7 linked regions of the Homo sapiens genome follow. The protein of the gene in region 6 interacts with the protein of the main gene of each other region in a pairwise test. Each region holds a gene or a part of one and is shown on either strand. Other genes may lie near its edges.

Region 1 (2,527 bases), about 18 Mb from region 6:
TGGTGAAACCTCGTCTCTACTAAAAATACAAAAATTAGCCAGGCATGGTAGCAGGCACCTGTAATCCTAGCTACTCGGGAAGCTGAGGCAGGAGAATCGACTGAACTCAGGAGGAGAAGGTTGCAGTGAGCCGAGGTCACGCCACTGCATTCCAGCCTGGACAACAGAACAAGACTCTGTCTCAAAAAAAAAGCAAAGTCATGAGGTGGGCACAGTGGTGTGCATGCACTGGTAATCCCAGCTACTCAGGAAACTAAGGCAGGAGGATCACTTGAGCCCAGGAGTTCAAGGCCAGCTTGGGCAACTTAGCAAGGCCCTTTCTCTTAATAGAAAGAAAAAGCTAAAACACATCAAAAGTATACTGCTTTGGTTCAAATTCAGATAATACATCAAATTTGCCTTGTTTTAAAATAATTAATAACTTGACTAATATAAGTGAGTGACACAGGCTAAATAATATTGATTTAATTATTTCTGATTAGCATTCATTTTTGTTTAGAGATTCTGCATATTTAATATGACAGCCTATTCTGCATTCATGAGCTCAACTGGGTAATATATCATTGCTGAAATTCTACAGCCTCTTTGTTATAGAAATATTTTCATTACTTTTACCATTTTGCCTTATTATTAGCTGTTTCCTATCTGCCATAGTCAACTGTTTTCAATTAAGTGCTGTAAATCTAGAACAGCAAACAAAAAGCCAGCCAATACTTTGTGCCTGCCCTCAGCTTACTAAAGTTGCTATTTTATTTCCAAGAAGAAAAATCTTTCTTGATCTCAACCCACCAAAAACAAACAAATCTTGCAATTACTTGAAACACTGTATACCTTGCATTTTACCATCTGTAGAGAAATTGCTTCTGCCTTGCAGAGTATATCTTCCACATCAATTTTCATGGACAATTCATTGATATGCTAAAAAGTATCAACAAAATAAAATGATATCGAAACTGAATACACTATTATATTCTATTATATAAACAATTTATTACCAGTTATATTTCACTGCAGATAAAATCCTTAAAATAAAAACATTCATATACTACAAATACGTAAGAAATTCAATATATCTTTCTTTAGATTATTTCAAGTTTTAAAGCTAAAGACTAGCTAATAAGCTTATGGAACATTAAATCCAGCAGCTATTCCAAGTCTGATATCTCAAAGTTATAATCAAAAGACAATTAATTTTTGAAAAACTAAACTACATAAAAGAGCACTTGTTGAATTTCCTTTTCTTCCTAATTAGCCAGGTAAAAATAACTGGCCAATATGTATTTGAACTGTCATTCTCAGATAGTCATTCCTAGCACTGTTATTGACACAATTTAAGTTACTCAAGAGATTTAATAATGTTCCAAGGAAACGTTCTGTATATCAGGACCACCAAATAGAAAAGCCAGAACACTAAAATCTGAATTAAAGGAATAACTACCTTAAGTATTTCATTGAAGCCATAATGCTTTTCCATTATTTGCTGCTTTTCTGATTCCAGAATAGCACAACAGAGAAGAAGATGGAAATTTGTACATGGTAGTTCGGTCCACATTACCTATAGAAGGCAGAAGAACTATTTTGCAAATTGTATCAATTCTAAAACATTTTCCTCACAGATACAATTCTGAACACTGAATGACTTCTATGCAAAGTAGATGTTGCCTGTTTAGGGTAGCCCAAGGTTTTTCTAGCTAGGAAATGAGGGGAAGGAGAGTCTTACCTTCAGCTACAAAGTAACTATCATCGAGTTTATATGAATATGATATATTCTAAATGTGGCTCTTTAAGGTAACTATAGTAAGTAAATTACTGAGCCTAACCAGTATGATAAATGTTATTAATGCAGGAGCTACAGACACAAGGTTAAGGTGTAAGGGTTAGATGTATTTTCAATATTTTTCTGAAGTATCAGTTTCTCACTTCGATCTGAGAAAAGACTAAAGCTAAGTCCTGGAAATAAAAAAAGGTTCAGTTACACAGTACATGGAATCAGAAACACCCAGAGGTAGCTCTACATTCTAAATACGTAAAACCCTTGTATCACATTTTATCCCTGATTGTGACAATAACTGAATTAACTGCCCCAAATTTATAACCAAACATAGAAAACGCTTGATCAACAGCTCAGCTGTTCCTAAATACAGATAATATCCTCGAATTTAGGGTCTTAATTTCCCCCTGCTTCATGTACCTAATAATATATTTTCCACAAAGATAAAAACACCCACACAAACCATACCATGAGATCATACCCGAAATGTGTTTACTTCTTTCAAAAGGAGTAAATCAAGTTGAATAATTTTCAAACTAAACCCAATTGTTGAAAGTTTAATTACAATGCAATTAACCTCAAAGGTTTCATTAAAAGTTTGAATTTATTTAGTAAACACAGATTGAGGAGTTATTCTAGCTATGTGGTAATAATATTCTTAATTCATCCTTTAAAACCCATTTATGCCTGAGGATGCAATTTTTTGAATTTTTCAATCAGACCTTGGTGATGACCTTGAGCAGTAGGATATAAACA
Region 2 (3,500 bases), on a different chromosome or scaffold from region 6:
CCCTGCTGGCCACCAGTGCCAGCCCCCACTGCTCCTCCTGCTGGCAGCCCCCAGCCTCGGGGTTTGCTCTGGGGGAGAAGCAGAGCTGGTTCTAGAAACTATCACTGATGCTCCTGCTGTGAGGCGCCAGGCCTCCCACTCACCAGCTGGCTATATCCTCCCACAGTAGGGGAAACTGAGGCCCAGGGAGGCAAAATCACTTGCCAAGATCACCAGGCATTGACAGAACTGAGACTGGGCCTGAAGGGAGCTGGGCTCCCCTTCTTTCCCATCCTGTCCCTGGCCTTGCTCCCCCAGGGCCATTCCCCAACAGCCCATGCAGCTTTCCCCCAAGATGCCCTCTCACTGGTCTTGGGGAGGCAGGGGGCTCCCTCTATCTCCCACTCGCACTTATGCCTGAGGCCCTCCTGTGGTTCCCTGCTCCCATCCACCCTAAGTGCCACCCCTGACACTGACCGATGAGGCTGCGGTATCCATGCAGAAGTGAGTTTCTCCGCTCCTGCTCAGGGCTCACAGATTTCCACTGCAGCTTCATGCGGAAATACTCATCCCTGAGTGACAGAGGGAAACAAGATGTGAGGCCGCCACTGTCTGCAACACCCAGAGACCTCCAAGCCTGGCGCCACCTCCCAGGTCAGCCCTGCAGAGCCCCTCCCTGACCACACAGACCCAAGCAGGTCACCTCGTCATTCTTGCCACTATCCCTTACACTTCACCTTCCTGGCATCTCTCACTACATAGCCTTGTGGCCTTTTGATGAAAATTTGTCACCCCCCACTGGACAGGGCACCAGGGACAGGGAATCGTCCAGCACTGCTGCATCCTCAGTGCCTGGCAGGTATATAACCTACACCAGGAATGAGGAGAGACGGGCCCTCCTAGGTTATAAAACATGCTGCAAAACTGTGATCATTAAAACAGTATGGCACAGGAATGAAAACTGCAATGGAGACAGACCATACAGGGGTGAGGATGGGTCTGGCTTGATCATTGCCGTATTCCACAGGCGCAGGATGGTGCCCAGATACAGCAGGTTCACAACCAGCGTCCACAGAACTTGCCCATTGGTGCCCTAGGAGGTACCAGGTGTCATGCCTGGCAGGGCAGGGCCTCCTGAGAACTCACGTTTTCTTGCGTATGTGGGCCTTGTGCTCCTCAGCTGTGCCTTCCCAGCTGAGGTACCCTAGGAGGAACTTCCAGGCCTCGCGCCGCAGGCTGGGGCTCAGACCCTGGGGGTGCAGGAGGGCAGGCAGCTCAGTGGGGCCTTGTTCTGGCCCTGCCCCATTCTTCCACCTGTCCTGGCACTCACCCCCGAGAAGATCCGGTTCTTCAGCTCAGGGACCTGCTGCAGGCGACCTTCAGGGCCCACGTGGCGTGCCCACTCCTCCTCTGTAACTGGAGGGCCCCGCTCCACGGTTGGCCGAGGCCCCAGCTCCACCTGCAGGCAAAGAGCAAATGAGCCTGGGGCTCGGCGGGGTGGTGGGGGGACCCAACCCAGCCTCAGTCCACAAGCTCAGAGAGCTTATTAGCTTGACGGATGACTAACATTCAGGGGCAGGCAGCAGCCTCTTCCGGGGCTCAGCAGCCAAGTCATCCCCCAGTTAGGAGGGGTCCCCCAATAAGGGTGAGCAGGTGCTCACAGTGTCTGGCAGAGCCATGAGCGCTTTCCTCATGCACCCCCTGAGGGTGTCCCATTACCATCCCCGTTTTACCAAAGAGGAAACTGAGGCCCAGGGAAATGAAATCATGCGCCCAGGGAGACACGGCCAGAAATAACAGGGAGGGTCCACTCACTACTCACACAGGAAATGACCTCGAATCCAGGCTCGGGCTCATCGTCGGGTGGCGGGGGAAGGTCGGAGGCGGCTCCCTCAGGCTGTGGCTGCAGGGCACCCCGGAAGAAGTTGGTCACTCGGGAGAAGCTGCTGAAGGTGGTGGAGTAGGGATCCTGGAGGAAGCGCTGGGGACGAGGCCAAAGGGAGGTCACGGCCCGCCCCTTCTCGTCCCTCCCTGCCCACACCCGCCAGGCCTCCTGCTGGGGACACTCACTGACACCACATTGGAGCTGTCCTGGTCAAAGAGCTGCAGGTGGTGGAAGGAGTTGGAGAGAGCAGAGGAGTCGTGGGGGAAGACAAGGTAGAGGCGGGAGTCCTGCGGGGAGCTGGGAGGCGGGAGGTGACGCACAGGTGATGCACAGGTAGGGGCCCAGTGTCCCAGGCTGTCTGTGCTCGGCCGACATCGGTTCCAGCTGCAGCGTCCCAACCACCCCTGGGCAACCCCTCATTTCAGGGAATGCTGTTAAAGGAGGCCCACAGCTGGATCCCAGGGGTGGGCACATGACTCGGGGCTGGCCAATGAGGGCCTTTCACCTTCCGGTCCAGTGTGACTGACTCAGGGACGAGCCAATGAGAAGCAGCTCTGGGATCTTGTTGGAACGTGGGGAAAGAGGTGCCTTCTATCCAGCCGGGTTGTTAAGCCACGGATACTGGGGCCCCAGAGAATAACGAACTCAGAGGGAAAAAGGATAACTGTTTCTAACATTTTGGGACCTGGGTCCTGCCTGAAATCAATACTCCTTTTTGACTTTTTAGTTATATGTGCTGGTCAACTCTTTGCCTGCCTTTAAATCAGTGTGAGTTGTGTTTCTTTCACAGCCCCGAGGGGTCACGCTGCAGCCATGGTGGGACTGGGCCCGGTTTAAGGCCCAGCACTGGGAGAGAGCTCACCTGGCCAACAGCAGGTAGCGGCTGAGGACGCGGAGCAGGGCGCGGGTGCCCCCGCGGTGGAAGTGCAGTGCGGGCAGGGAACCTCCAGCCTGGGTCACCAGAACCAGGTAGGCCCAGCTGAGGCCTGGCTTGGAGCGGCGGATGGACTTTAGCTCCCCCAGACTCACTGAGAAGGCCCAGGAGCCCTGGGGGCAGCTGGGCTCTGCACCTAGGGAGACGGCACTGTGTTGGGGGAAGCGCGTGGGAAGCCAGAGTCAGCCTTATCAACCACAACCCAGGATGTTCCTTCGGCACAGGCATCTCCTGAGGGCCCCGCCACAAGCCACCCCTCTGCCCCTGGCCTCACATTCCTTGGAAGCACAAATGAGTAAGATGGGAAGGGGGCCCAGTGGACATGTACCTTTCCAGAACCTTCCTAGGCACCCCTCGACCTGCAGGGTAAGGGCCCTATTCCTCAACCTGGCACTCGAGGCCCCTCGGGTCTGTCCTTCGCCCCTGCCTATCTTACCTCCAACCTTTCTTCACTCAAAATCCCACACTTGAGCTACAATGAAAGGCCAGCGGCTCCCTAAACACACGGGGGCCGCCTGCCTCTGGCTTGCACGGGCTGCTCTCTCTGCCAGAAGAGAAAACTCCCAAGAGTCCCTCAGTGCCAAGCTCCAGCATCACCTCTTCCTGGAAGGAATCTCCATTCCCCAGAGGGGTCACGTGCCTTCTCTGGATGTCCCCTGCACCCTGTGTGACCCCAGGATGGTGCAAATCACCCTAACTGGC
Region 3 (3,500 bases), on a different chromosome or scaffold from region 6:
TTCATTGCCGTTAGCAGGCAGGCGCGTACGTGCACACACAGGTCCACATGCACACACTTTCTGTATGGCAGCTCGGATTGGGCCACCTCCTAGGATTTTTTTTTTTTTTTTTTTTCTGGTGATTGATTCAAGACTCGAAGTCTTAAGTTACCAACAATCGTAAGCCACGCCTGTGTACACAGCAGGGCTCCTACGCTCTGGCAAAGCATCCAGGCCTTTTTAAGACCACCTGTTCTAAAAGCAAATCTACAATAAGAATGCAACCAAGCCAGGCCGCACTCCCCGCTGAGCACACGCCTGGAAGCACGTTCTAGATCCTGCACCCATCTCGTCTGCCTCCAGCCAGGGCCCTGGCTCGCCAGCCTTTGGTCTCGAACTTTGTTTCTGAGAACACAGCAGACATACAGGGTGCTGGGAGAGGACAAGGAAGCCAGCCCCTAGAGCAGCAGGTGCTCACCGGGCCGCCCACCACACTGAGGCCACGCCAGCTGGACCAGCCCCTCCAGGGCCCCTGCGCTTGGCACCCGGCGCCCAGCCAGCTCTTGGTTCCCGTGAGCACTGTGTGCACTCATTTCATGGCCTGTTTATCTGCCCAACCAGAAAACAGGTTAGACAACACGAGCTCTGCTGTGCCTTCATTTCATTCACACACTTACGTCTCTAGAGCCGACCTTTCCCTGGTGGCAGGGGTCACATTGGCTGCCAGGCAGGCTGATGGCGTCACTGTCCCTCGAGGGGACACTGGTGGGCAACGCAGGAACCAGAAGGGAGGCATCTAATCAAACGAACATCCCACTTATCCCGGCCCCAGAGTGCCTGCCGGCATTTCCGGTTACATTCCCCCCCACCGGCCCTCACTCTAGAACACTCGCACAATGTGATTTGAATCGGGTCTCTCAGGCACCCGAGCCAAAGACCATGGTACTAGGTTTTCAGGCAAATATCTACAACTCCCCTAAACCTCGGTACAGCCAGAAAAAAGTCAAAGAGCAATGGCCAAGGTCAAAGACCCTAATGGGAATGGCAGACCTGTGGGACTCACACCCTTTCCACCAGCTGAGGAGGCCTGTGCCCGTCACACCGTGTCTCACCCTTCCTTGATGTTTATTTTTTTGAGACGAGGTCTCACTCTGTCGCCGAGGTGGGAGAGCAGTGGCACAGTCATGGTTCATTGGAGCCTCAACCTCCTGGGCTCAGGCCATCCTCCTGCCTCAGCCTCCCTAGTAGCTGGGACTACAGGCACACACCATCACGCCAGGCTAATTTTTTGTAAAGATGGGGTTTCACTATATTGCCCAGGTGGTCTGAAGCTCCTGGCCTAAGCAATCCTCCCACCTCAGCCTCCCAAAGCACTAGGATTACACACATGAGCCACTGCACCCGGCTGATAAAATTTTTAAAAAATCACCAGGATGCTCCACTCCATGTCTCACGTGCTGCCCAGCGGCCGCCTGCTCTCAGAAAGGCTTGCGTGAACCCAGCTACCGCATCTCGCCCGCTTCACTGTGGGCATAAGGCAACCATCCCCGCCCCGCAGGCAAAACAACCCCTCAGCATTTCTAAAACTGCCCGTAATTGCCCTAAATTGCTCCAAAGGCCTTTAGAGCACTCCCGAAATCTCTCCATGCGCTGCTGGGTTAGTATGGGGTGGAGGGTGACGCCGCAGGGACAGGGCTGGCTGTCTGCTTCTCTACTGCTGCGGACCCCTAGAGACACAGGGTGGGGGGCAAGTTGGTTCCCACACAGCATCCCCATGTGCTCCAGGTCCCAGCCACTCTCAGCCCCGCCCCTGGGGGTGGGTGTAGCATTCACCACACCGTGCACGGCGCAGCCCCAGCAAGTCCACAGATGGATCGGATGAATGGCAGCCACACAGCGGAGCTCACACAGACCAACGTGGGGAGAGCGAGAGGAATGAGCCGCTGAGGGGGCGGGGAGCCACTGGGTACCTACCTCCTAAAGCAGGACAAGCAGGGACAGCCCGTCACAGAACAGAAAGGTGGGAGCCACAGGCAGAAGGAAAACAACAAGAAGGCACATTTAAACCACGCGTCAAAAATCACAGCCACACCAAACCGAGAGAGGCACACAGGCTCTGTGGAGATAATGCGCTTGCTTCTCGTGCAGGAAGCTGCCCTGGCTGGATCTGGATGCTAACTCAGCAGTTTTCTGGGACGGGCCGTGCAGCCTGGGCGCTACTCTCTGCCGCGGGCATGGCTCTGAGGCCCCGGCTCGGAGAAGCAGCCGTGGCCATGCAGCTACCGAGAGCGGGCTCTGGCTTAACCGCGTTTCTTTTTAACGTCTCTGCCTGCGGTGGGGGGCATTCCTACGATGAGCCTGGGAGGAACCCGAGGGGCTGCTGCCATGGGCAGAGGGGTCACGCCCGGGTCCCGCTGGGCCGGCGGCTCACCCAGCTTCAGGAGCCAGCCCTCGCGGTCGGGGTTGAAGAAGGTGTGGGTCAGGTCGTTCCCGTCGTCCTCCGGGATCTTAAATGGCTCGTTCTTAATGCTCTCATACAAATTCTGCAAGGAGGGAAAACAGCAGCCAGTTCAGAGACTCGGAGGAAAATGGCTGGCCGGGCAGAAAGCTCAGCGGGACCAGGGCGGCAAGGAGGCTTGGGAGGCGTGTCTAGAGCCGCGGGCGCTGCGGCCGCTCACAGCGAAGAGATCCTGCAGACGGCAGCGGCCGCGGGCCGGGGAGCTCACCCTCAGCAGCTCCTCAGGGAGGTCCCCGCCCTCGTTGATGCCGCGGTTCATGGCGATGAACCGTTCTGCCGTGGGCTTGTCACGCACGTTGTGGTTGTGGAGGCTGGTGTTGAGCATGATGATGGCGAATGACAGCACGTAGCACGTGTCTGCAACGAGTCCGGGGTGCTGGGCTCAGCCAGAACCTCCAGTGGACAGTGGGACCCCGCGTGCTGGGGGCCCGCCTGCAAGAGGTGCCCGGCCCACAGGTCGTCCTCGCTCAGGGAAGGCAGGTCCCCAGGAACACACGCTGGGCTGTGCCCACAGGGGCCGCCCCCTCCAGAGCTGGAGGCTGTGCCTGGCAAGGGGCCAGGCTGTGGGCTCTGCACTGACCTGTGGACTGGAAGACCCCGGGGTTGCACAGGCAGTAGCGAGAAGCGAAAGCCTCCATCATGCGATCAATCTTCTGCGCCTCCCCGGGCAGCCTGAAGCTCCATAAGAACTGCCTGTGGAGACACCAAAGCCATGGGAAGCCGCATCAGAACCAACACCGCCTCACGGCCAAGGGCGGCTTCTGCCCAGCTCAGGAAGGACGTTTTCCTCCCGAGCCTGGGGTACAGCTCTGGCAGGGGCTTGGGGGCGCAGAGACAGAAAGGAGAAGACCCAGGACAGTCTCCTTCCGTTCCATAACTCGAGACACGCTTACTGATGGCTCATCTTTTTGTAACTACAACCAATTCAGCAGCGAGGCCGGTTGTCTCTGCCTAAAAAGTAAATATCCAGGATCCTGGCACTTCTCTGTCCCCATTGCCACCA
Region 4 (4,226 bases), on a different chromosome or scaffold from region 6:
TAAGTAAGTCAGTGGCCCAGAGTTTGGAAGAGGTTGTCTGCCCCCAGCTCTGCTACTTTCTGGACATAGAACCTTGGGCAAGTCATTGCAGCTCTCGGGGTCCTCCTCACATAAGAGGACAGTGGCCAACTGTAGGACATGTCATTTTAGAGCTGTGAGGTACACAGCCCATATGGCAGTACCTGTCAACCCTGGACCTCCTTCCTCCTGAGGTTGAGTTGAGAATTCCACGAAATAAACCATAGGATTCATGCACACACCAGGCTGGATCTGCTACTCACTAGAGATTGACTCCCTTCTCCTTCTCTCACCTGAGGTACATTCCTACATTACAGCATCTGGAAAAGTATCCAGCTCTGGGGTTTGGTGACCTGGTTTCTCCAGGGTAAAACTTATGTACAGAGGTTTTTAGGTCCATGTTGTCATCCTGTAACTGGGGGAACCTTTCTGATCCTAGAGAAGTGATTGAGGTGTGACCCTTGGTGGCTTAGTGGATGCCAAGGTCAATAATTAAAACCCAGGGGTGTCATCATATCCTAACTTGGGGCACCCTTGGAGAGGCTTACCAGAAAACACCCTCGTTGTTGTTTTTATTTCTCAGTTTTCCAACAGATGGAGAAGCAGAGGTGTAGGGAATGGCCGGAACATGTGTGGGATCTGAATTTGCCCAAGGTCCTTATCTGGTGCATCAGAGAGTTAAAGGCCCAAGCCAATGTTCAGACAGTGAGGTCCAGAGGGAGGAAGCATCCTGGCCAACAGCAAGCAGCTGATGAACAGCAGAGCATTAGAGGACAGAGATGAGGAGGAAAGGAGAGAGGTGAGGGAAGGACCTGAAGCTGCTGCCAGGACTGAGAGAGGAAACCATAGGCAAGTCTTTTCTCTTGGGTCCCTGGAGCTGCCTCCTGCCATTTTTCATCCTCTATTGCCTGTGTGGACATGTGTTCACATTCACATGTGCCAGCACACATAGGGATGTAGAAAGCCCTGAAATAGCTAGATTGAGTCCTAGCTTGTAATCTGAGGTCTGGGGCAAGTGATCAGTACACTTGTCATCTGAGGTCCTTGAGCCTCAGTTTACTCATCTGTAAAATGGGGTTGCTTGATGCCTGCCTTGCCCACTTAGGTAGTAAAATGCACAAACCCAAATGGTCTACCTCCACAGCCTGCACTGATCCAGCCTCCCCCACCACCAGCAGAATAATCTGGGAGGTTGGGCACATGACCCTGCATCAAAGAATGCATGAGTGCCTCTCTGCACACAGCCCTGGGCAGTGCCCATTTCTCTTTCAGCTCAGTGAATGATGGAAACTCATGGAAGACAGCAGACAAAGCAGCCCCAGGGATAGGGGAGATTCCAGAGAGGCCCGTGACCAGGCCACAGGGATGCTGGGGCTGTAAACCAAAAGCCACTGGACTCTGTAAACCCACTGGGCACCACAGAGGCAGAAGGGGTGATGAGTGAGAGGCGAGTGGTAGTGGACTTGCCCACCAGTGCCAGCTCCAGCATGCCCCTCCAGAGGCGCAGGGCGTCCTTCAGGGGGCCACGGTCATCATCCTCCCTGGAGAGCCCCCCAGCCTCCAGGACCAATGCCATGAGTGGCCTTGTCCGAGCACCCGGGGTCTATGTAGGAACAGCACCCAGTGGGTGCATAGGTGGCTTGGGTGCCCGTGTGACCCGCCGGGCCCTCGGCATCAGCAGTGTCTTCCTTCAGGGCCTGCGGAGCTCAGGCCTGGCCACCGTGCCGGCTCCAGGTTTGGAGAGGGACCATGGTGCTGTTGAGGACCTAGGGGGCTGCCTGGTGGAATATATGGCCAAAGTGCACGCCCTTGAGCAAGTCAGTCAGGAGCTGGAAACACAACTGCGGATGCACCTGGAGAGCAAAGCCACACGCTCGGGAAACTGGGGTGCCCTACGGGCTTCCTGGGCCAGCAGCTGCCAGCAGGTAAGTGTCCAGGCTGTGCCAAGGGCTTTGCAGAGGGCTGGGAGGGGCTGCTGAAGGCAGCGGGTAGGGTTGTGAGTAGGCTGAGGCCAGAGAAACTGACCATAATCCCCTACACTTTCACACTTAAAATGGTAATGATAACAACAATGCTACCTTTTACCGAGGTTTACTAGGAGCCCACGCTAGCCCCCATACGTGCACTACCCACTGTCTTCTTTAAACTTCAAAGAAATGCTATGCAGTGGATCATTCACTGATTGCATTTTTCAGATGAGAAACTGAGGCATGTAATTTGCCCAAGACTTCAAAGCTAGTAGAGGGATGGAGATGAGATTTGAACCTGAATTTTTGTGCCTCCAAAGTTGCATTTGCCCCATTACCCTGGGGCTGCCTCAGTCACCTTTACTGTTGAGAAGGGATTTTTACAGCTATTATCCAATCAAATACCATTGGATGGATGAGGTGTTAAGAACAATGAATAAATGGAGGTGTGTTCCTGTATCCACCTACAACCACGCTGTTCAATAGAAATATGAACTACATTGGTAATTGACAAGTTTCTATTACCCACAGTAAAACACGTAAAAAGAAGCAGGTGAAGTTAATATTATAGCTTATTTAACTCTATATGTCCAGAATGTTATTTCAACATGTAATCAATACAAAATATATTAATGAGGTAATTTACATTCAAGTAGAGCTTTCTGCGTGATGGAAATATTAATATCTTATATCTGCACTGTCCAATCTGGCAGCCACTAGCCATATATGGCTATCAAGCACTTGAAATGTGGCTAATGAGACTGAGGAATTGCATTTTTATTTTATCTAATTTTCATTAATTTAAATGTAAACAGCCACAGGTAGCTAATGGCTATCTTATTGGACAGGGAAGGATGCAGAGGTTTCATCTTTCTCCCTTGCTTGGTCAGCCCTGCTTTTCCCACTCTCCAGGGTGATTTCTGCGGAGTCTGGAGCACATCCATCATGTCTGGCCTGCAGCCTGTAGTTCTAATGCTGGGACTCCAGCCAGCATTACACCTCTCAGCTGGTCTCTCTGTGGATAGCTGGCTTCACCTCTCCTCCTCCTCTTTCTCTCCAGATGCTGGCCTTGGGATCCCTCTGAGCAAAATCAGTCTCTAACCCACCAGGGACTGCCAACTCAGACCCTTGGCCCCCTGGAGTCCAGTATGCAGCCTCCCAAGAGGAGGTCACAAAATTTTATTTGTGTATAGCTGGGGGAAGCTAAGCAGTTGCACACAGGGACTCCCCATTTGCCCCTCCTGCCTCCCACTTCATCCCAGGATGCTTCTCCTGCACTGCTGTCAGTGCCCACTGACAGCACAGAGTGCATGATGAACAGCACCATCCTCTCAGGCTCTCCCCCTGGTGCTGCTGTTCTGCTTGCATCCATCTGGGCTGCAAGGGAGAGCCATCTTAGAACAGTCCAGGGCCTTAACGCCTGTCAAATCTAAGAGGCAGCCATTCCTCCAGGATTCTTCACAACTGTCCTTATTCCAAATATTGTGCCATAACAACCACCAGAACATCCCTAGATACTCCAATATGTCAGCATCTGCTGGACAATCGCTTGCAATCAGATGCCACACAGACTTGTCAGGAGAAATCAGGTATCCCAATGGCTAGGTTAAAAAGTAGGGCCACAAAACTTAGTTTATACTCAATAGATACTGACTTGTTCTGGCTCCAGATAGCTACAAGAGCCTTTGCAACTTACTAACTTCTCTGGGCCTCAGTTTCATTATCTACAAAATGGGTATAACAATGCTTACATATTCCAGCAAATCTGTAGACAAATAAGAGCCTGGCTCCTGCTTACAGGTAGAGTACAGACTAGGAAGCTCTAAAATCCTGTGAGAGCACCACAGCCACACACCAAGACATGCGACCTCTGTAGTTGAGGGTCAGGATCCCACATGGGCTCACTTTCCTCTTAAGTGACTATAAATGAGGGCCTGGGTATGAATAAAGTTCTCTTTTTCTTCTTTTTTAAAAAATCATGGACTTGAAGATAGAGTAAGACCAATTGATAAAATGGAGTTATTATTTCTTTTTTTTTTTTTTTGAGATGGAGTCTCATTCTGTCACCCAGGCTGGAGTGCAGTGGTGCGATCTCAACTCACTGTAACCTCCACCTCCCGGGTTCAAGCAATTCTCCTGCCTCAGCGTCCTGAGTAGCTGGGATTACAGGTGCACGCCACCACGCCCAGCTAATTTTTTTGCATTTTTAATGGAGATGGGGTTTCACCATGTTGGCCAGGC
Region 5 (3,500 bases), on a different chromosome or scaffold from region 6:
GATTTATATATATATATATATATATATATATAATGAGTACTGTAGTTTTATCAGTTTAATAGGAACTATAAGAAACATTTCCCAGTATAACATCTCTGAAGTTGGTATGTGTGTTAAATTGGACATCTTACAACTTTAGCAGCATTTTCTTTTTTAATGGCACATAAAATAATGTCTTAAAATTGATGGCCTCTTGGAGTCGATAAAACGTGATTATTTTTAGCTGTTAAGCTTAGCACAACCAACCATTGAAAAATGATATAAACCATCTTCATAAGGTGATTTTAGAAGTTTGAGGGGAAAATATGATTTTAAAATTGGTTAAAAACACGATGTCATTATGTTTTGTTACTTTTTTTTTTTTGAGACGGAGTTTCGCTCTTGTTGCCCAGGCTGGAGTGCAGTGGCACAATCTCGGCTCACCGCAACCTCTCCCTCCTGGGTTCAAGTGATTCTCCTGCCTCAGCTTCCTGAGTAGCTGGGATTACAGGCATGCACCACCATGCCTGACTAATTTTGTATTTTTAGTAGAGACAGGGTTTCTCCATGTTGGTCAGGCTCGTCTCAAACTCCAGACCTCAGGTGATCTGTCTACCTCGCCTCCCAAAGTGCTGGGATTACAGGCGTGAGCCACCAGCCTGGCCTAGTGTCATTACTTTTAAAGCTTGTTTAAAAAAACGACTTTGAATCACCAACCTGTGTTTTACAAAATTGAGAGGCTGGAATAAATGGTTTCCCTGATTTTATTAGAGTATTTGTTTTCTATTGCAGTAATAAATTATCACAAACTTAGAGGCTTGACCACAGAAATTTATTATCTTATAGTTCTGTTGGTCAGAAGGCTGACATGGGTCTCACTAGGCTAAAATCTTGTCAGCTGGGCTACGTTTCTTTCTGGAAAGTCTAGCGGGGATTCCCCTTTCAGTAGTTTAGAAAATTTCTCTACTTTTAAAGACCCAGTGAGATTAGTTTGGACCCACCTGGATAATCCAGGATAATCTCTCTATCTCAAGGTCCTTAACCTTAGTCACATTTGCAGAGTCCTTTTTGCTATCACAGAAACATTTAATATGTGTTATTAACAGTTATTTAATATGAGTAATGTTGAGCACTAGCCAATACATTAAAATTTTGGGGGGTACGGCCTCAATATCTGTTTTACCTGCTGAAATCTATGATTTAGACATTCCCTCTAAGTCTCTTGAATACTATATGTAGGTTAAATTTAAGGAAGACTTTACTTGCTGTGACACGGGGTTAGATAAATACTACACTGGATTTCTAAGGATACTTCAATATGAACTTTTGAGAGAGTCTTCAGAATGAAGTATTCTTCATTTGCCCTGAATTTTGGTAATGTTTTCAGGTAGGGTATAGGTTTGTAAATAAATTCAGAAGTTCTTAAACATTCTGAAAGGCTTTTTTTTTCACTATTCAAGGAAAGATAAATTGCCTTCATTACAACTTTTATGACATCCTGTTAATAAAGTACTTTTTGTCATTTGGTGAAATAAATGTTAGGGGAAATTAATTCCCTTCCCTGAGATTCTAATCCCAACAAAGAATTGAAAGTGAGTAATAGAAATTTGATGTATTCTTTGAAAAATACACATCCAACTAATTACCTAATTGTTTTTATAATTGACTAGTTACATCTATTAACACCATGTAGAGAAAAGGTAGGCATCCTAGAGTTATCGTTAAAGGAGAAAGGAAGTGAGGCACCTTCATGTATAAAACTTTACATTTTATTCCCTGCACCTTAATACTTAAAACTTCTTATGTCTGAAGAGCTCTTGTTTGCATTTTTCCTCAAATGATTGCAGAGTTTAAATATAGGGAACTTCAAGGTATTTCATGAAATCACTCTTATCTGAGAGTTTAGCAAATGAACTTCAAAATAATGCAGCAAATTATTTGGTTGAGAAAATTGTTATACACTCTGCCAGGCATTTGAGGACATATAAGATGGAGTTCCACCCTTTATCATAGACCAATTTTGAAGTAATTCCACAGGGGGAAAAAATAACAACATGGCACAGTCTGTGATAGATGTGGGGCGATTTTAGGATAACAAAAAATGGGGAGAGATCTGTCTTAGTTGCAGTGGTCTGAAGTTAGAATTTGAACTAGGCCCTGAAGGAGATATATTTGGTCATATAAGAGGGAAAGAAGAAGTGGCATCCCAGAACTAACAAGTGGAAATGAATATGATAGTGATTGAGTCATATGTATCTGACATTTGAGTTACAGTAATTATTAAATAATGATAATGTAGGCCTCTGATTATATCTTTGTGGTGTTTAAATAAATTTTTGAAAGGTCACCATTACAATAGTTGCAGTGTTAGAAATGGTCTGTAAACTTTTAAAGGCAATGCTGAATATTTGTCTCACTGGTCATGGCTTCAGTTCTGTTGTCAGGTGAGAGACCTTCTGTTTCAGAGAAACCTTAAATTCTGTTTAGTAATTGCAAATATTAGGTTGGTGCAAAAGTAATTGCAGTTTTTGCCATTAAAAGTAAGAAAAGCAAAAAGTAAAAGTAGTTACTTTTAATGGCAAAAACCGCAATTTAAGATGCTAGTAAAACATGCCATCATTTTATATACAACCTACTGGAAAAATTACTTCTAGCTTATAATAAAGATGCCATCAATTATAAGAAATATCTTGATTTCAGAGATGTTAACATGTGAAAAGTATACCCTAGAATCAATGAAATTATGGTGAAATACACTATACAGTTAAACTATTCAGTTTTCTAAATATGATTAATTTACTCAAATATTGAAGTTATTTTTATTGTACTAATAATTTAGGTTACTAAAACCCAAATCAGCAGAAACATTTGACTATCCATACTAAGTACATTCTAATATTGATAAATGATGTTCTGTATGGTTTTTTTTTTTTGGTGCCAAAACCTAGGAATTAATGTTCTGTATATTTTCTGTAATTTTTCTGTTGACTGCATTTCTGCACATCAGTTTTTTTTTTAACTTCCATGACTTTGTATTTCCTGGATATTATCCCCTTTTGCTGATGAGATGGTCACACCTTTGACTATATTACATGACATAGCACATCTTAGCAGACTGCAGTGAGGGATTCTTCTGCTGGTTTTGAAGAAGTGAGCGGCCTTCTGCACATCAGTTTATTTTTTAATCTGTATTAACTAGTAGATACTATACTAGTATATTAATAGTATAATAATTGATTATTCCTTAGTACGTTTCAGATTGATTTTAACTTTCATGGATCTTTCTTTGAAGCAGCCAAACAGTATTGCTTATTTAAACAATAATTTGTAGGACATAATTTTGAACATTTTAAAAGGCTTTTTATAGAAATCTAAGTGGTTTATGTTCTTTTCTTTTCCAAGGTACAAATTCTGAGCTGTCTAACCCCTCTGAAACGGAATCTGAGCGTAAAGACGAGCTGAGTGATTGGTCATTGGCAGGAGAAGATGATCGAGACAGCCGACATCAGCGTGACAGCAGG
Region 6 (3,500 bases):
CATGTGCTTGTGCAGGCCATTGCTGAGAGCCTTGGTGAGCGTGCAGGTCCTTAACAAATGCTTTACGATGCTGTGTATGTGTCTGTCTAGCCTGTGAAGCTGGTTAGAGTGGATGAATGTGTTTTTGTGACTGTTGAGGCAGAGTGTGCATACAGGTATGAGGGGATGGCAACAGAGAAAGAAACAGAAACAGAAACAGGAGGAATATAAAATCGCCTTTAGAGGTATGAGGCTTAGGGCATTTTTTACTAAGTAGATACTCAAAGGTGTACGCTCTTGACAGGAATAAAGCCTGTCCTTTGGCATAAGGTACAGTGATGGCTGCTATGAAGGGTGAAGTTCTCGGCAGTGGGAAACTTGTCCCACTTTTCCATGGCATGCACCCACCCTGGGACTAAACCCTGAGCAGAAGTGACAGGGACCCATGAGTTTGCTCCCTCCCCAACTGCCGCATTATCCAAGCCAGACTCCCACTTGAGACAACCCACTCATGGCCAGCACACCAGGAGGCACGACAGGACAGTAACTGCCCAGCATCCCCTGCCATGAGGCAGGGATGCGTCCCCTCTTTCCCTCCTCCCTCCACCAGGGTCTAAGAGCTGGAGGTCTGGGCCCTGTGTTCCAGTCACACCTCATGATAAGAACACATTTTGTGACAACAGTCATACATATCATATAAATATATTTGTTCAAACTACAAAGGGATGGATATCAGGGGGAAGCTTTTATTGCTGTGGGGGGACCTGGAGAGGGAGGGGGGCCTTGGAAATGGGGATACCTGGGACCACTTGTTCCCCCCATTCCTCACAGAAGGCACAAATACATTATTTCTTTCCATGTGAGGAGATGCGAGGAGAGGATACAGAATACAGGAATCCTCAAAAATACAAAAAACCCCTCCAAACTGAATACCTAAGGTTATGGAAAAGGCTAGGGTGGGGCACAGAAGTCAATGGGGGAACAGAAAGAGGAACCAATGAAACTGAGAACCAAAAGGGACCTGAGAGGCCATGATGTCCATGCTGCTGCCTCTGTGCAGACCCCAGAGAAAACTCAGGTAAACCAACGGAAACTCCAAATAAGAGAGGGTAGGGTGCCCCAGGAATTGGCTTTGGGGCATCAGACAAGGGAGTGTGAGTGTGAGTGTGTGTGTGCAGTGGCTGTGTATCAGAAGCAACCAGGGCTAGGAGTGGACGATTCTATTCCCACAGGGGAAGGCCTCCTCCATCCCGGTTCCTCCAAAACCACTTTCAGGGGATAAATTCAGCCACTGCTTCCGAACAGGACCCCTCCCTGGGACAAAAGAGCCAGGTAGGAGAGGATGAAGTGAGAAATCTTGGGATGAAAACAGGGCACACAGAAGCAGTTCTTAGGGAACAGAATATCATGGAGCCCAGTGTGATAGAAAATGGGCATGAAACCTAAGTGTATGCATGTGTGTGAGTGTGTGTGTGCATGAGTGTGTATTTGTGCATGTACGAGGGAGTAAGATCACTCAAAGGTGAAGGGGTCCTGGGTGCTGAAAAAGAAGTGTCCATCCATGTGGTCCTCCAGGGCATCCTTGTCACTCTCAGCAGGAAAGCGCTCCTTACAGATAGGACACTCCTTCCATGTGGGGGTGGCAGGGCCCCCAGTGCTGGTTTCTGACAGGGTACCCACTGTAAAGCCACTAAGAGAGACAGAGGGGAAAGGGAGAGGGTCGGCGTGCTCTGTTCCCTTCTTGACTTGCAGACTTCGGAGAGCAGGACCCATGTGCCTGGGTTCCCAGGTTATCCTGTGCCTAATGCAGCATCCTGGCCTCTCCCACAGCGTCTTTCTCCCCACAATCCTGGAAGGCTTATTTTTCCAGTTCCCCATGTCCTCTCTTCTTTAGTCCCTGCTGGTCTCTGCAGTGCAGAGCCCATCCCCCAGCCTCCTGCTCTCCTCCCTCCATCTCCGTCTGCTGCCTAATGAGGCTGAAAATGAGTCTGACATCGTCCTTCATCTTCCTGCTCCAGCCGAGAAGGATGACAGCATCACCCCCTCCCTGCCCTGAGCCCATCTCACATCCAGGCAAAACCGGGACTAGATGATCAAATCTCTCTTCCCTGTGCCTGCCCCCTTGAACCTGGGAATAAAAGGGAAGGCAGAAGGGGACAATCTGATACCTGAAACCCCCACCTCTATAGGTTCCCTTCCCTAAGGGTTACCCAGGGAAGTCAGGGAAGAGGGAAAGCATTTCAGTTGTAGCCAGATGGATGCTGGATCCCAGTCTTCTCTCTGCTCCTATCCCTGGGGGCCATGGTCACCTCCCTTCCTCCCCGGAGGACCCTAGGTACCTACCTGGTGGTTGGGGAAGGGGTAGAGGCAGGAGAGAGGGGAAGCAGGGCAATTTGGGCTCTGCAGAAGATGGTGCTAGAACAACATAGAAGCCAGTTAAAGGCAGGACCTCTGAGTGCATTGATAAGATAGGGGTAGGGATTACCTGAAGGCATCTGGGATTTGGAGCAGTGAGTCATTTTCCTTGTTAACCATACCTGTATCTCCTTTTCTTGGCTGAGGCCAAGAAGGGCAGGGGTTGGGAGCAGGGCCTGGTGACTGTCCACACAGATGCCCTTTCCCTCTGACCTCCTCCCACCTCCCTCCTGGCCTTGCTGGTTGAACTCACCTGGCCATGTCATAGAAGGCACTGCCCAGTTCAGGAAGCAGTAAGTTGGCCTCCTCACCCCCACTCTGCACAGCTGCCATCAGGACTGACTTCTCATCTTCAGCCTCCTGGATGCCAAAGAGACAGGGTTGGGCTTTGGGGTGGTGTCCCAAGATGGGGGAGCAGCACATTGGGACAGGTATGGGAAGAGCAGCCAAGGCTAGGACAGTGACCTGAGGGGCTTAGGAAGAGTGAGGCAGGAGAGGCGTTTTGAGGGGCTGGTGAATAATAAGAGAATGACTGTGGGGGAGAAGCAGTGAGGCTATTGGGCTGGTCTGGGTTTTGGGATGATATCTACTGGTGTGGCACTGAAGAGAGGCTGGGCCTGCCTCCTCTCCCCTGGGAAAAAGAGAGCCCTGGATAGCTAAGATTCCTTCTCTAATTAGCCGGGGGTGCCTGCCTGTGGTCCCAGCTACTCTTGGGAGACTGAGGTGGGAGGATCGCTTCAGCCCAGGAGGCAGAGGCTGCAGTGAGCCAAGATCGTGCTGCACTCCAGGCTGGGACACTTGGGTTTGGCCCTGCCCCTCCTTACTGCTTCTGCACAGGCTCCTCCACTGCTCACCGAGTCAGAGCTACTGTCCTCAGCTGGCCCAGAGAGGTGAGGAGAAATGGGAGCCGGCTGGCTGATGACAACAAGGGGAGAAGCCTCTCGAGGCCCAGCAGGAGAGGAGCCTGGGTCTCCACGCTCACAAAGGCCATAGGGTGGGAGCCTCATGTCTTCTGGGGACTCGTCCTCTGAGTCTGTCAGAGCTGCCGGGCAGCCTGTAGGAGATGAAGCAGGCAGAGAAGAAAAAAGGATGTGTTGTGAGGAGTT
Region 7 (3,500 bases), on a different chromosome or scaffold from region 6:
TGGAAGCCACTGGTGAGTTTGGAGAAGTTTCAGTAGATTAATGGGGACAGTAGATGTATTGTAGAGTTTTGAGAAAATGTATGAAAGTGAGAGTGTGAAGGCGGTGCATGTAGACTACTCTTTCAAGAAGTTCATCTGAGAATGGAAGCCGGAAGATTAATTCCTGCTAGAGGAGGAATATACGGGGTCAAGGAAGGTCCCCCTTCCCTCCTTAAAAAAAAAAAAAAAAGGGTGGGAAATGCTTGAAATTGTTTCTAGGCCATTAGGGATCTTTGGTTAATGCCGTGAGAGGAGAAGATAATTGATGGAGCAAGGTCCTGGAGGAACAGAAAGAGTTATCAAAATCTTTAGAGCAAGATCTGCCTTAAATAGGAGGAGTTAACTGGAAATAAGGATAGGCACAGCCATAAATGTTTTGGGCGGTGGGTAGGAGGATAAGGTGGCCCTAGTTTTCTTGATGAGGTAAAAGAAGACATCATTTGCTGAGAATATGGGAATTGGTATAAAGCTTCAGGAGGGTGTTGAAGAAGATAATGTTATCTGCAGTTTTAGATCAAGGGAAATCTCAAAATGTGAAACTTAGGGGCAAACAGCAAATTCGTTTACCTGGGTGGTGTTTCCCCTGTTCTAGTGAAGCAGAGATGTGAGTAACTACTTGACGTTGGTAGTCACTGAAGCTCTGTGCTGAAGTGAGGTCTCTACTTGGCAGTTCCCATTTTTGTTTTTTTGCCTTCTCTTGGCTTGATAATAAATGGATGAGAAAATAAAAATAATTTGGTTGTGTTTGGTGGGCTTAACTCAAACTAGTGGGTTTATATGTTTTTTCTTTAAAAAAATTTTTTTTTTTGAGACGGAGTCTCTGTGGCCCAGGTTGGAGTGCAGTGGTGTGATCTTAGCTCACTGCAACCTCTGCCTCCTGGGTACAAGCGATTCTCCTGCCTTAGCCTCCTGAGCAGCTGGGATTACAGGCATGCGCCACCACGCTTGGCTAACTTTTTTGTATTTTTAGTAGAGATGGTGTTTCACCATGTTTGCCAGGCTGGTCTTGTACTCCTGACCTCAAGTAATATGCCTGCCTCAGCCTCCCAAAGTGCTGAGATTACAGGTGTGAGCCACCACACCCAGCTCTTTAAAATTTCATTGCCATTTTGTAAAGGGGAAATACAGTGTAAGAATTTTTTTCTACGATGTTGAATTTCTACCACTTAACAGCACAGAATTTTTATATCAAAGTATGCAAATTTGACAATTTCACTTATATGCTAAATGTTCTTAGAGCTCTGAAGATGAGTGGGTTGAGGCTGTTCCATCCCAGACTCCTGACAAGGAAAAAGCCTGGAAAGTGAAAGATGAAAAGTCAGGAAAAGATGACACCCAAATTATCAAGGTAAGCAAGCCACTTGATTTTCCTTCCTTGCTTTCTTCCTTCCTTCCTTCCTTCCTCCCTCCCTCCCTCCTTCCCTCTCTATCCCTCCCTCCCTCTCTGTCCCTCTCTCCCTCCCTCCCCCTCCCTCCCTCCCTCCCTCCCTCCCTTCCTTCCTTCCTTCCTTCCTTCCTTCCTTCCTTCCTTCCTTCCTTCCTTCCTTCCTTTCTTTCTTTCTCTTTCTCTCTCTCTCTCTCTTTCTCTCTTTCATTCATTTTAGAGACAGGGTCTCACTCTGTTGCCCAGGCTGGGCCGCAGTGGCACAATCAGAGCTCTCTGCACCCTCGACCTCCCAAGCTCGAGTAATCCTCCCACCTCGACCTCCCTGGTAGCTGGGACCACAGTTGTGTGCCCACCACGCCTGGCTAATTTTTTTATTTTGTGTAGAGTTGGGGTCTCCCTATGTTGCCTAGACTGGGTCTCAAACTCCTGAGCTTGAGCAATCCTTCCACCTCAGCCTCCCAAAGTGCTAGAATTAGAGACGTGAGCCACTGCACCTGGCCTATCACTTGGTTTTAAAGAAAAAAGTATCAACTTTTGAGAATAAATGAATATGAAAATGAAAGATGATTAAAATTTCTTCAGGAGAACAATTAGACTTTGAAAACAATATACTTTAGGAATAATTTTGGCAGTACTGCTGTTTGCTGAATGTTTAGAACCCCCTTCCCCTTCTACTGTGAGAAAGTGAGTGTTCCTCTCTATTCTCGTTCCTTAGAGGCTTTCATGCTTTTGATTGTTGATAAGAAGTGGCACTTTCCCCTTATGTCCCTAAAGCCTTATACTGTATCTCTGTCTGACCCTTCTATAGTGAGTGGAGTTCCATCACAGTTTTTTTTCCCTTCACCTCATGCCTTAATTTTCTTAACAATACTTAACAGTTGAATAGTTCAAAAATTTTGGGCTATAGTTCATCTGCCTCAGGAAGAATGTAATTTGTCCACTGTTAGCCACAGGTGAAGGAAGAAAGGTGAACAGGAACTAAGTTTGATTGCTTGTTGTGTGCCAGGCTTTGGGCTGGATGCTTTAGATCTGTTATCTTGTTTACTCTTTAAAACAATCCTGAAAGGTAGGGATTTTATACCATTTTATAGAGGAGAGACTAAAGTATAGAGAGATTTAGAAGCTTGCTTCAAGTTATATAGCCATGTAGGACTTGTTTCAGGTTTGATTGCCTCCAAAGTCCCTGCTCTTATTACCAAGTGTTTATTAAATTCTAATCAGTTCAGATTGAAATGATGAGTGGATGACTGTTGATTTTATGTCTTTTTTTTTAACAGAGGGATGAGTGGATGACTGTTGATTTTATGTCTGTTAAAACTGTGTCATCATCATCACTCAAAGCTGAAAAGGAAACTATGAGGAAAATAGAGCAAGAGAAAAACCAAGCGCTTGAACAGGTAAGAGAATATTTGAAATGCTTTAACTTTCTAATTTACCTTTAATAAACTTACAAGACATTTATATAAATGCAGTTTAACTTGTAAAATACCATTTTATTTTTTATAGTATTTAATACAATTAGTGAGAACAACTATGAAATACATCAGTTTAAGAAAAATAAATTTCCTATAGGAAGTGAGTTTAAAGGTTTACTAGATTTATAAATCTAGGGCATATATAAAGTTGAGTGAATATTGAGTTTAATATCATTAAATTGAAAGTGAACTCACTCAATTTTTGTTTCAGTGTACATACTGAATTAGACACCATGAAAATACTTCCATTTCAAGACATCTAGAAATTCTGGTGGATATAATGTAAAATAAGCATGCTTATTTTATACTTTATTGTTGTCACTTTGCTAGTAAGGAAGCAATAGGAAATCTGTAGAGACCAAAAAATGAGGCAAAAGCATGAATCCAGAGAAGTAAGGAAGTGCTGAAGCTGATGACTTTCCTAGGGGCATCACACAATCCTGGTAATCTGGAATTCCAATTTATACTGTACCAGGAGCATATGTTTCTTTTCCAGTACTCAGTATCTGTAATTGTCAAACTTTATATATTTTTTTATCAGCCTAATAAATGGGTGAGAAATGGTATTTCATTGTTTTTGTTCGCATTTATCTGATTGC

Evidence for each region.
Region 1: the proteins of CALCOCO1 (region 6) and TBC1D15 interact in binary tests that used the Homo sapiens proteins (3 or more experiments, as listed by UniProt).
Region 2: the proteins of CALCOCO1 (region 6) and TBC1D17 interact in a two-hybrid assay, tested with the Homo sapiens proteins (one large-scale study listed by BioGRID and IntAct).
Region 3: the proteins of CALCOCO1 (region 6) and CYTH3 interact in a two-hybrid assay, tested with the Homo sapiens proteins (one large-scale study listed by BioGRID and IntAct).
Region 4: the proteins of CALCOCO1 (region 6) and BFSP2 interact in binary tests that used the Homo sapiens proteins (3 or more experiments, as listed by UniProt).
Region 5: the proteins of CALCOCO1 (region 6) and FXR1 interact in a two-hybrid assay, tested with the Homo sapiens proteins (one large-scale study listed by BioGRID and IntAct).
Region 7: the proteins of CALCOCO1 (region 6) and CWF19L2 interact in binary tests that used the Homo sapiens proteins (3 or more experiments, as listed by UniProt).

Annotation. Positions count from the first base shown.
Region 1 is NC_000012.12:71,919,759-71,922,285, reverse strand, and holds part of TBC1D15 (TBC1 domain family member 15), read right to left. Parts: intron 1,574-2,527; exon of another isoform or gene 1,556-1,573; coding exon 1,439-1,555; intron 919-1,438; coding exon 832-918; intron 1-831. UniProt on the Homo sapiens protein: Acts as a GTPase activating protein for RAB7A. Does not act on RAB4, RAB5 or RAB6.
Region 2 is NC_000019.10:49,880,702-49,884,201, reverse strand, and holds part of TBC1D17 (TBC1 domain family member 17), read right to left. Parts: intron 2,935-3,500; coding exon 2,727-2,934; intron 2,162-2,726; coding exon 2,050-2,161; exon of another isoform or gene 2,028-2,049; intron 1,961-2,027; coding exon 1,802-1,960; intron 1,439-1,801; coding exon 1,310-1,438; intron 1,230-1,309; coding exon 1,126-1,229; intron 941-1,125; exon of another isoform or gene 552-940; coding exon 457-551; exon of another isoform or gene 1-456. UniProt on the Homo sapiens protein: Probable RAB GTPase-activating protein that inhibits RAB8A/B function. Reduces Rab8 recruitment to tubules emanating from the endocytic recycling compartment (ERC) and inhibits Rab8-mediated endocytic trafficking, such as that of transferrin receptor (TfR).
Region 3 is NC_000007.14:6,168,125-6,171,624, forward strand, and holds part of CYTH3 (cytohesin-3), read right to left. Parts: intron 3,191-3,500; coding exon 3,078-3,190; intron 2,855-3,077; coding exon 2,706-2,854; intron 2,523-2,705; coding exon 2,411-2,522; intron 1-2,410. UniProt on the Homo sapiens protein: Promotes guanine-nucleotide exchange on ARF1 and ARF6. Promotes the activation of ARF factors through replacement of GDP with GTP. Plays a role in the epithelial polarization.
Region 4 is NC_000003.12:133,398,630-133,402,855, forward strand, and holds the start of BFSP2 (phakinin), read left to right. Parts: upstream 1-1,426; 5' UTR 1,427-1,454; coding exon 1,455-1,943; intron 1,944-4,226.
Region 5 is NC_000003.12:180,964,670-180,968,169, forward strand, and holds part of FXR1 (RNA-binding protein FXR1), read left to right. Parts: intron 1-3,381; coding exon 3,382-3,500. UniProt on the Homo sapiens protein: mRNA-binding protein that acts as a regulator of mRNAs translation and/or stability, and which is required for various processes, such as neurogenesis, muscle development and spermatogenesis.
Region 6 is NC_000012.12:53,710,453-53,713,952, forward strand, and holds part of CALCOCO1 (calcium-binding and coiled-coil domain-containing protein 1), read right to left. Parts: intron 3,449-3,500; coding exon 3,249-3,448; intron 2,755-3,248; coding exon 2,648-2,754; intron 2,395-2,647; coding exon of another isoform or gene 2,323-2,394; intron 1,670-2,322; coding exon 1,492-1,669; 3' UTR 1-1,491. UniProt on the Homo sapiens protein: Functions as a coactivator for aryl hydrocarbon and nuclear receptors (NR). Recruited to promoters through its contact with the N-terminal basic helix-loop-helix-Per-Arnt-Sim (PAS) domain of transcription factors or coactivators, such as NCOA2.
Region 7 is NC_000011.10:107,440,826-107,444,325, reverse strand, and holds part of CWF19L2 (CWF19-like protein 2), read left to right. Parts: intron 1-1,276; coding exon 1,277-1,387; intron 1,388-2,703; coding exon 2,704-2,823; intron 2,824-3,500.